Linked DNA regions of Homo sapiens. The protein of the gene in region 1 interacts with the protein of each later gene in a pairwise test. Each region holds a gene or a part of one and is shown in the gene's direction. Other genes may lie near its edges.

Evidence for each region. Proteins that work in one complex are often made in the same cells at the same time.
Region 2: the proteins of SAFB (region 1) and CHD1 interact in a two-hybrid assay, tested with the Homo sapiens proteins (one study listed by BioGRID).

The regions. Positions count from the first base shown.
Region 1 is NC_000019.10:5,625,961-5,629,712, forward strand, and holds part of SAFB (scaffold attachment factor B1), read left to right. Parts: intron 1-444; coding exon 445-529; intron 530-3,752. UniProt on the Homo sapiens protein: Binds to scaffold/matrix attachment region (S/MAR) DNA and forms a molecular assembly point to allow the formation of a 'transcriptosomal' complex (consisting of SR proteins and RNA polymerase II) coupling transcription and RNA processing.
Region 2 is NC_000005.10:98,894,408-98,898,159, reverse strand, and holds part of CHD1 (chromodomain-helicase-DNA-binding protein 1), read left to right. Parts: intron 1-839; coding exon 840-967; intron 968-1,717; coding exon 1,718-1,934; intron 1,935-3,473; coding exon 3,474-3,563; intron 3,564-3,752. UniProt on the Homo sapiens protein: ATP-dependent chromatin-remodeling factor which functions as substrate recognition component of the transcription regulatory histone acetylation (HAT) complex SAGA. Regulates polymerase II transcription.

The DNA.
Region 1 (3,752 bases):
GGTTAAAGAGTATTTTGTGAGTAAAGTCAGGGGAAATGGAGAGTGTGCCTTTCCCTTTTTGAGTTCTTCTGGGCTTAGGAAGGAGATGAACCAGATAAGCCTACTGTTTGTTGAGTGCTTCCTTTTCATGGCTAGTAGAGTCCTCACAACAGCCTTCCAGGGTAAGTACTGTATTATTATTAGCCGCATGTTCCAGAGGAAGAAGCAAAAACTGAGCACCTAAGTAAACCTGCCTGGGACCACCCAGCTAAGAACTGGTGGCGTCAGTCGGTCTCCAGTGTAGAGCGAGATAACAGATGAGTGGATGGGCCACAGGTCCTGGGTGGTGAGGGCGGCAGCAGCTTTTTGATCTTAAAAATACAGTTTCCTTGTCACCTGAGAGCTCTCTGAAAGCAGTGTGTGAGCTGACTTTTTGGATCAACTTTACTTTTCCCTTCTTTTTAGGCAATTGAAGATGAAGGTGGTAATCCTGACGAAATTGAAATTACCTCCGAGGGAAACAAGAAAACATCAAAGAGGTCTAGCAAAGGTATGGAGGATTTCATAAGCAAGTTTCATGTTAAGTGCTTTCTTCAAAACGAATACATTGCTAATGTGCCTCGTTTACTTGTCTGTGTGTTGGACTTGTGAACCACTCTGAACTGGGAGCCTTCAGCGAAGCTTTGCATTTTCTTTCAAGATCTCTCTACTGTGTTTTGTTTTCTTGGTATCTGGGAATTCCAATGGAGGATGGAAGGAGTATTTGTCCTTTATTCATTTTCCTCTGTAGATTGTCAGCGGTCCTTAAATAAGGAGTCTTTTGGGAGTCAGTCACAGTGGCGTGTGCCTGTAATTCCAGGCGACTCGGGGCTGTGGTAGGAGGATCACATGAGCCTGGGAGTTCAAGACCAGCCTGGGCAACATAGCAAAACCCAGCTCTACAAAAAAACTTTTAAAGGCCCGGTGTGGTGGCATGCATCTGTGGTCCCAGCTGCTTGGGAGGCTGAACCGGAAGGATTACTTGACCCCAGGAGGTTGAGATCAGCTTGGGCAACATAGGGAGACCCCCATCCCCACCAAAAAGAAATTAGCCAGGCATGATGGCATGCACCTGTGATCCCAGCTACTTGGGAGTTTTAGGAGGGGGATCACTTGAGCCCAGGAGCTCAAGCCTGCAATGACCTAATGATTGCACCACTGCACTCCAGCCTGGGTGACAGAGCAAGACCCAGTCTCTCTTAAAAAAAAGGGGGGTGGGGGCGGGGCACAGTGTCTCTCACCTGTAATCCCAACACTTTGGGAACCCAAGGCAGGAGAATGGTTTCAGTCTAGGAGTTTGAGACCAGCCTGGGCTGCCTCTATCCACTGCCAAAAAAAAAAAGTACCTAGGCGTCGAGGCACGCCTGTTTTCCTAGCTACTTGGGAGGCTAAGGCGGGAGGATCATTTGAACCCAGGAGTTCAGGGTTGCACTGAGCTATCATGGCACCACTGAACTCCAACATGGAGTCCAAAAAGTAGGACTGCCTGAGCCTCCTATTGCTTGGACTTGGAGAAAATAACATCCCTTATAAACAGCACTTGGCAAAAACAGAATTGTCACTTTAACATTTCTTTTAAAAGCAGCTTATACAGTAAAAGTCACATTCCACATGACATGACTCTCACCATCTTACCGAAATCTCTCTTGCCCATCCCCCACACCCTGTGCTTTAGTCAGGCCCCAAACACGTGATTTACTCTCCTGGTTCTCTGTGACTTCGCTCCGCCCACCCTTCCCCATCTGTCTGCCTTAGAGACCTAGTTCCTCAAAAGACAACTGATCCATCCCACCAATAGCAACTCGTCTCCTTGGGTCCTCTGTCCTCCCGTGGCATAGTTCCTTACCCCTTGGTTTAATATTTATGTCATCTTGCCTTCTGTCAAGAGCAGATTGATGAGGACTAGGGCTGTGTCTTGTTTATCTTTCTTTCCCCTTCAATGGTTTAACTTGGTAACACTCAACTATTGGCTTAAGAAAGAATCAGCTGAGGCAGGGCGCCGTGGCTCACACCTGTAATGCCAGCACTTTGGGAGGTTGAGGCGGACTGGTCACCTGAGGTCAGGAGTTCGAGACCAGCCTGGCCAACATGATGAAACCCCGTCTCTACTAAAAATATAAAAATTAGCCAGGTGTGGTGGCGGGCTCCTGTAATCCCAGCTACTCAGGAGGCTGAGGCAGGAGAATTGCCTGAACCCAGGAGGTGGAGGTTGCACTGAGCCCAGATCGCACCACTGCACTCCAGCCTGGGCGACCGCAAGACTCCATCCCCCTAAAAAAAAGAATCAGCTGAAGCTGGGCTTGTAGACCGAATGTTCTCTTGGTTCATGTAGAGTTTTCCCTATCTGAAATGCTTGGGACCAGAAGGGTTTCATTTTTTGGATTTTGTGCGGTATTTTCGTACGCATAATGAGATAATCTTGGGATTGGGGCCCAAATCTAAACAAGAAATTTGTTTCTTATACACCTGAAGATAATTTAATACCATATTTTTTATAATTTTGTGCATGAAACAAAACTTTCACTAATTCCACACATCAGGTGTGGAATTTTCTACTTGTGGCAATATGTCAGTGCTCAGAAGGTTTCAGTTTCAGATAGGGTTGCCCAACCTGTAATTGAAGGCCTGGTTCTCAGGGCCCAAAACTAAATGAGATAATAACTAATACTTGGTGGTGAAGTACTGGGTTTAAATATCTGAGAGTCAGGCCCCAGTGTCAGCCACAGTGTTTGGGGTAAGTGCTGGGAGAACAGCAGAATGAAGTCACTTCTGTGGCTCATGATACATTGCGTGTTTTTGCCTTTACTCAAGTATACTTCTGCCAAGGCAAAGAGTCCTGGAAAATCAATGGAGAAAGAAATAATAAAAGCAAAAAACAGAGCCTGTGGATCTCCTTTTTTGTTTTCCTTTTTCTTCTGATAAAAGCAAATACTTGTACTACAGGCTTTTGTTGCTGTTTTTGTTTTGTTTTTGAGGTGGGTTCTCACTCTGTCACTCAGATGGAGGGTAGTCGCGCAGTCATAGTTCGCTGCAGCCTTGAACTCCTGGCCTCAAGCAGTGCTTTCACCTCAGCCCCACAAAACGTTTAGATTTCAGTTGTGAGCCACTGCGCCCGGCAGGTTTTAAAATACGTGCATGGGAGTAAAAAGCAGAAGTTGTTCACAGTCGGGACAGCCCACTACTAAAAGTTAGGCATACTTCTCCAGACTGTGTGTGTATGTACAATGTTTAAAAGTAAACTTAGGCCTGGGTTACAGAGCAAGACCCTGTGTCTAGAAAAACAAAAAGTTAAATAAAAGTCAATGAGCTGGGCATGGTGGCACACACCTGTAGTCCCAGCTACTAGGGAGGCCAAGGTAGGAGGATTGCTTAAGCCCAAGAGGTCAAGGCTGCGGTGAGCCATGAGTGTGCTTCTACACTCCAGCTTGGGCACAGAGTGAGAGGGGGAAAAAAGTAAATATATAGGTATGTGCACACACCTGTATGCATATTTTTTTCATTAAAAAAACCCGTGATCTTGCTATACAAAATCTCACTGTTTTTTAACAGGCTAATAATCTTCTGTATGAATAAATACACAATTTAGCCCATCAGTCTTTTTATTACTAGACGTTTGGAGATTTTTATTTCCAATTATCACTCGGTACTTCCAACATTCAGTGTTTGCACGAACCAGAGATAAATACCTTTGTGTGGTCAAAGTAATATAATTTTTGATAACTTAGTGAAAGGAG
Region 2 (3,752 bases), on another chromosome or scaffold:
AGACTAAGGGAGAATATTTCTTGGTTAATAGGTCTTACAGGAAGTGAACTTCTGCAATTGCTGTGTGTTTTTTAGTTTTAGTTTTATAATTTTTTATTTCAAACTTTCTCTTAAAAAAATTGTAAATGATGTTTTCGTCAATGTATCTTCTTAAGTGTTGTCTTTTATCTTGTTGAGCATCACTATGTCAGAAAGATGAGTTGGTTATGGTGATTGTCAGGAAGGGTTGGGAGAATAAACAGAAAAAAACCCTTGGAAACTAGAGATATGCTCAATTTTAAAGATAGTGGATATTTTCTTAGAAGGTAGAGAAAAAGGAGAGTGATATAGGAAAGTATCCAGAACTACCTTGCACAATACTTTCTGCATCCTTGTAACTTACCCAGAGTTACTAGTGATGTGTTGAGATCTATGGACTACTAGACTTTCTTTCCTTATTACAAGAATTACATTCTTCATAGGGATAACTTGGAATTCAGAAATTGAACGGTAAGCTAAGCCAGTTTTATGGTTTGTAGCTTAAGGCTGGAGTGATGGTTTTGAACAATTTAACGTAGGTTTTGCTTGTGAAATACATGAGACTCATATTTTGGCAGGAAGTTAATTTTCTCTATACATTTTTGTTTAAAAAAGAAGGCAAAATATTTCACTGTTCATTTTTGTAGAGTAGTAGAAAACAGTATTGACTGAATCCTCAGGTACATTTTGAGTAATGGAATCTCTGAGCTTGATGATTAGAGATGAAATTTAAGAATTTATGGTAAAGCTGAGGCTTTCATCTTTTAGTATAATTTCTTATATTTAATAACTCTACATAATAATGTTTATTTCTACTAAAGGTATTAAAACAAAGGCCAAGGTTTGTAGCCCTGAAGAAGCAGCCATCCTATATTGGAGGACATGAGGGCTTAGAATTAAGAGATTATCAACTGAATGGTTTAAATTGGCTTGCTCATTCTTGGTGCAAGTAAGTATATTTTGAATCATCTATTTAATTTGACAGAGTAAGAATTTACCAATACAGGATTCAGAAAAGATTTCCATTTACATAAAGAATAAGACTCTTTGGCAGTTTATATGCTAGTCTTTGTATTTCCTAGTTTGTATAAACAATACTTACTACATACTAGGAAGAAAATCCAGTGGAGTTGGAGTTTAACTTGATTGTTGCCTTTTTAAAATATGTTTTTATTCAGTTTAAAAATCAAAATGCATATCTGTTCTCATCCCATGCTATTCCTGGAATATTTCTCTTTTTCCTAGTTATTTTAATATCCATTTACTCTTCTACATTTTTTTTCTATCTTCTATGGCCCCCACTCTACTTTTGTGAATCTCGGTTGCAATTTAGCTATAGTTTTTTTTTTTAATCTGTGTTCTTCCTATATACTTTTTACTTATTTAATATATCTGGACTCTACTACTAGTAGATGAATTGCATTATTGGCTTCATAATTGATTAAACATAATACTATTAATCTTTAAGCCTCTTCTGGCCCAAAACGGTCATCTCCTTTTACTTTTCTTACAGCATTAGTGATTAAGTCTTTAGCCAGATACCTTTACATTTATTATTTGTAGTTAATAAAAGTGGTATATTCTATATAATACCTATCAATTTTATTTAACTTCATAAAAACATATACACATGATGTAAAAAGGTTTCTTTGTATATTTGAATATTTCCTTGCATGCTAATTTTTTTTTAACTTTGTAGAGGAAATAGTTGCATACTCGCTGATGAAATGGGCCTTGGAAAAACAATACAGACGATCTCATTTCTGAATTATTTGTTTCATGAACATCAATTATATGGACCTTTTTTATTGGTAGTACCGCTCTCCACTCTTACTTCCTGGCAAAGGGAAATTCAGACTTGGGCTTCTCAAATGAATGCTGTGGTTTATTTAGGTGACATTAACAGCAGAAACATGGTAAGTTGTTTCCCTGTAAATGTAGAAATCAAAATGTACTTGTCTTTGAGATCAAGTGTTTTTGTTGTTTTGAGATGGGGTTTCACTCTGTCTCCCAGGCTGGAGTGCAGTGGTATGATCTTGGCTCACTGCAACTGGGACCACAGGAGCACGCCACCACTCCTGGCTAATTTTTTATATTTTTTAGTGGAGACAGGGTTTTACTGTGTTGCCAGGCTGGTCTTGAACTGAGCTCAAGTGATCTGCCTCCCTTGGCCTCCCAAAGTGCTGAGATTACAGGCATGAACCACCGTTCTTGGCCTAACAAGGATGAGAGGTTTTGTTTTGTTTTGGTCTGTATAACAGTCTTTGTTTCTGGTATAGAACTTGCCACAAATAAGTTCTCAGTACATGTTTAATTGACTGTAACAAAGTCAGTTTTGGTTTAGTGTTACTTAGTATATATATTTGACTGTTTTTTTGGTGGGTTTTTTTTTTTTTGTTTTCACTCTGTCATCCAGACTGGAGTACAGTGGTGTGATCTCGGCTCATTGCAACCTCCACCTCCCAGGTTCAAGTGATTCTTCTGCCTCACCCTTCCAAGTAGCTGGCATTACAAGCGCCTGCCACCAGGCCCGGCTAATTTTCATATTTTTAGTAGAGATGGGGTTTCACTATGTTGCCCAGGCTGGTCTCAAACTCCTGACCTCAAGTGATCCACCTGCCTTGGCCTCCCAAAGTGCTGGGATTTACAGGCGTGAGCCACCATACCAGCCTATTTTACATTTTTAATGGAAAATTTCAAATATGCATGAGAACAGACAGAAGAATGTAATAAACACTCATGTTCTTAAGTTTCACAAATTTACTGCTAGTTTTGTTTTGTCTATACCTCTACACACGACTTTCCTAGTTACTGTGAAGCAAACCCCAGACATCATATTTCATCCATAAACATTACATTATTAAATGAATTAATCACTTATGTTTTCTTAAATAAGACCTTTTCGTTTGTGAAAGATGTGCTTTAAAATTGTGTTTACTTCGTTTTTTAAGAAATGCTGTGGTATTTATGTTTTATTTATAAGATTTACATAGCATTTTGGACTATATAAAGAATAACTCTGGCCGGGCATGCCGGCTCATGCCTGTAATCCCAGCGCTTTGGGAGGCCAAGGTAGGTGGATCATCTGAGGCTGGGAGTTCGAGACCAGTCTGACCAACATGGAGATACCCTGTCTCTACTAAAAATACAAAATTAGCTGGGCGTGGTGGTGCATTCCTGTAATCCTAGCTACTCGGGAGGCTGAGGCAGGAGGATCACTTGAACCCGGGAGGTGGAGGTTGTGGTGAGCCGAGATCACGCCATTGCACTCCACCCTGGACAACAAGAGCAAAACTCTGTCTCAAAAAAAAAAAACCACAAAAACTCTTTTATTACATAAACATATATTAATAGTTACTTACATATTTGAATGGATTTTAATTTTTAGATATGTAAGTAAAAGTATAATTTGCTTGATGTTTGTCTTAAAAATTGTCCTTCAAATTTCTTAATAGATAAGAACTCATGAATGGACGCATCATCAGACCAAACGGTTAAAATTTAATATATTGTTAACAACTTATGAAATTTTATTAAAAGATAAGGTATGTATTTATTTCTCACGTGTTTTGGTCTCTTGTATATCAGTTTTTTCTTTATCATATGCTGTGGACAAGATGAGAGAATAGCCTAAATCGTGAGTCAGCAAGCTATAGCCTGTGGTCTTATTTTTTTAATGGTGCTTGAACTAAGAATGGTTTTTACCTTTTTGAAAGGTTACATTTAAAGGGTCT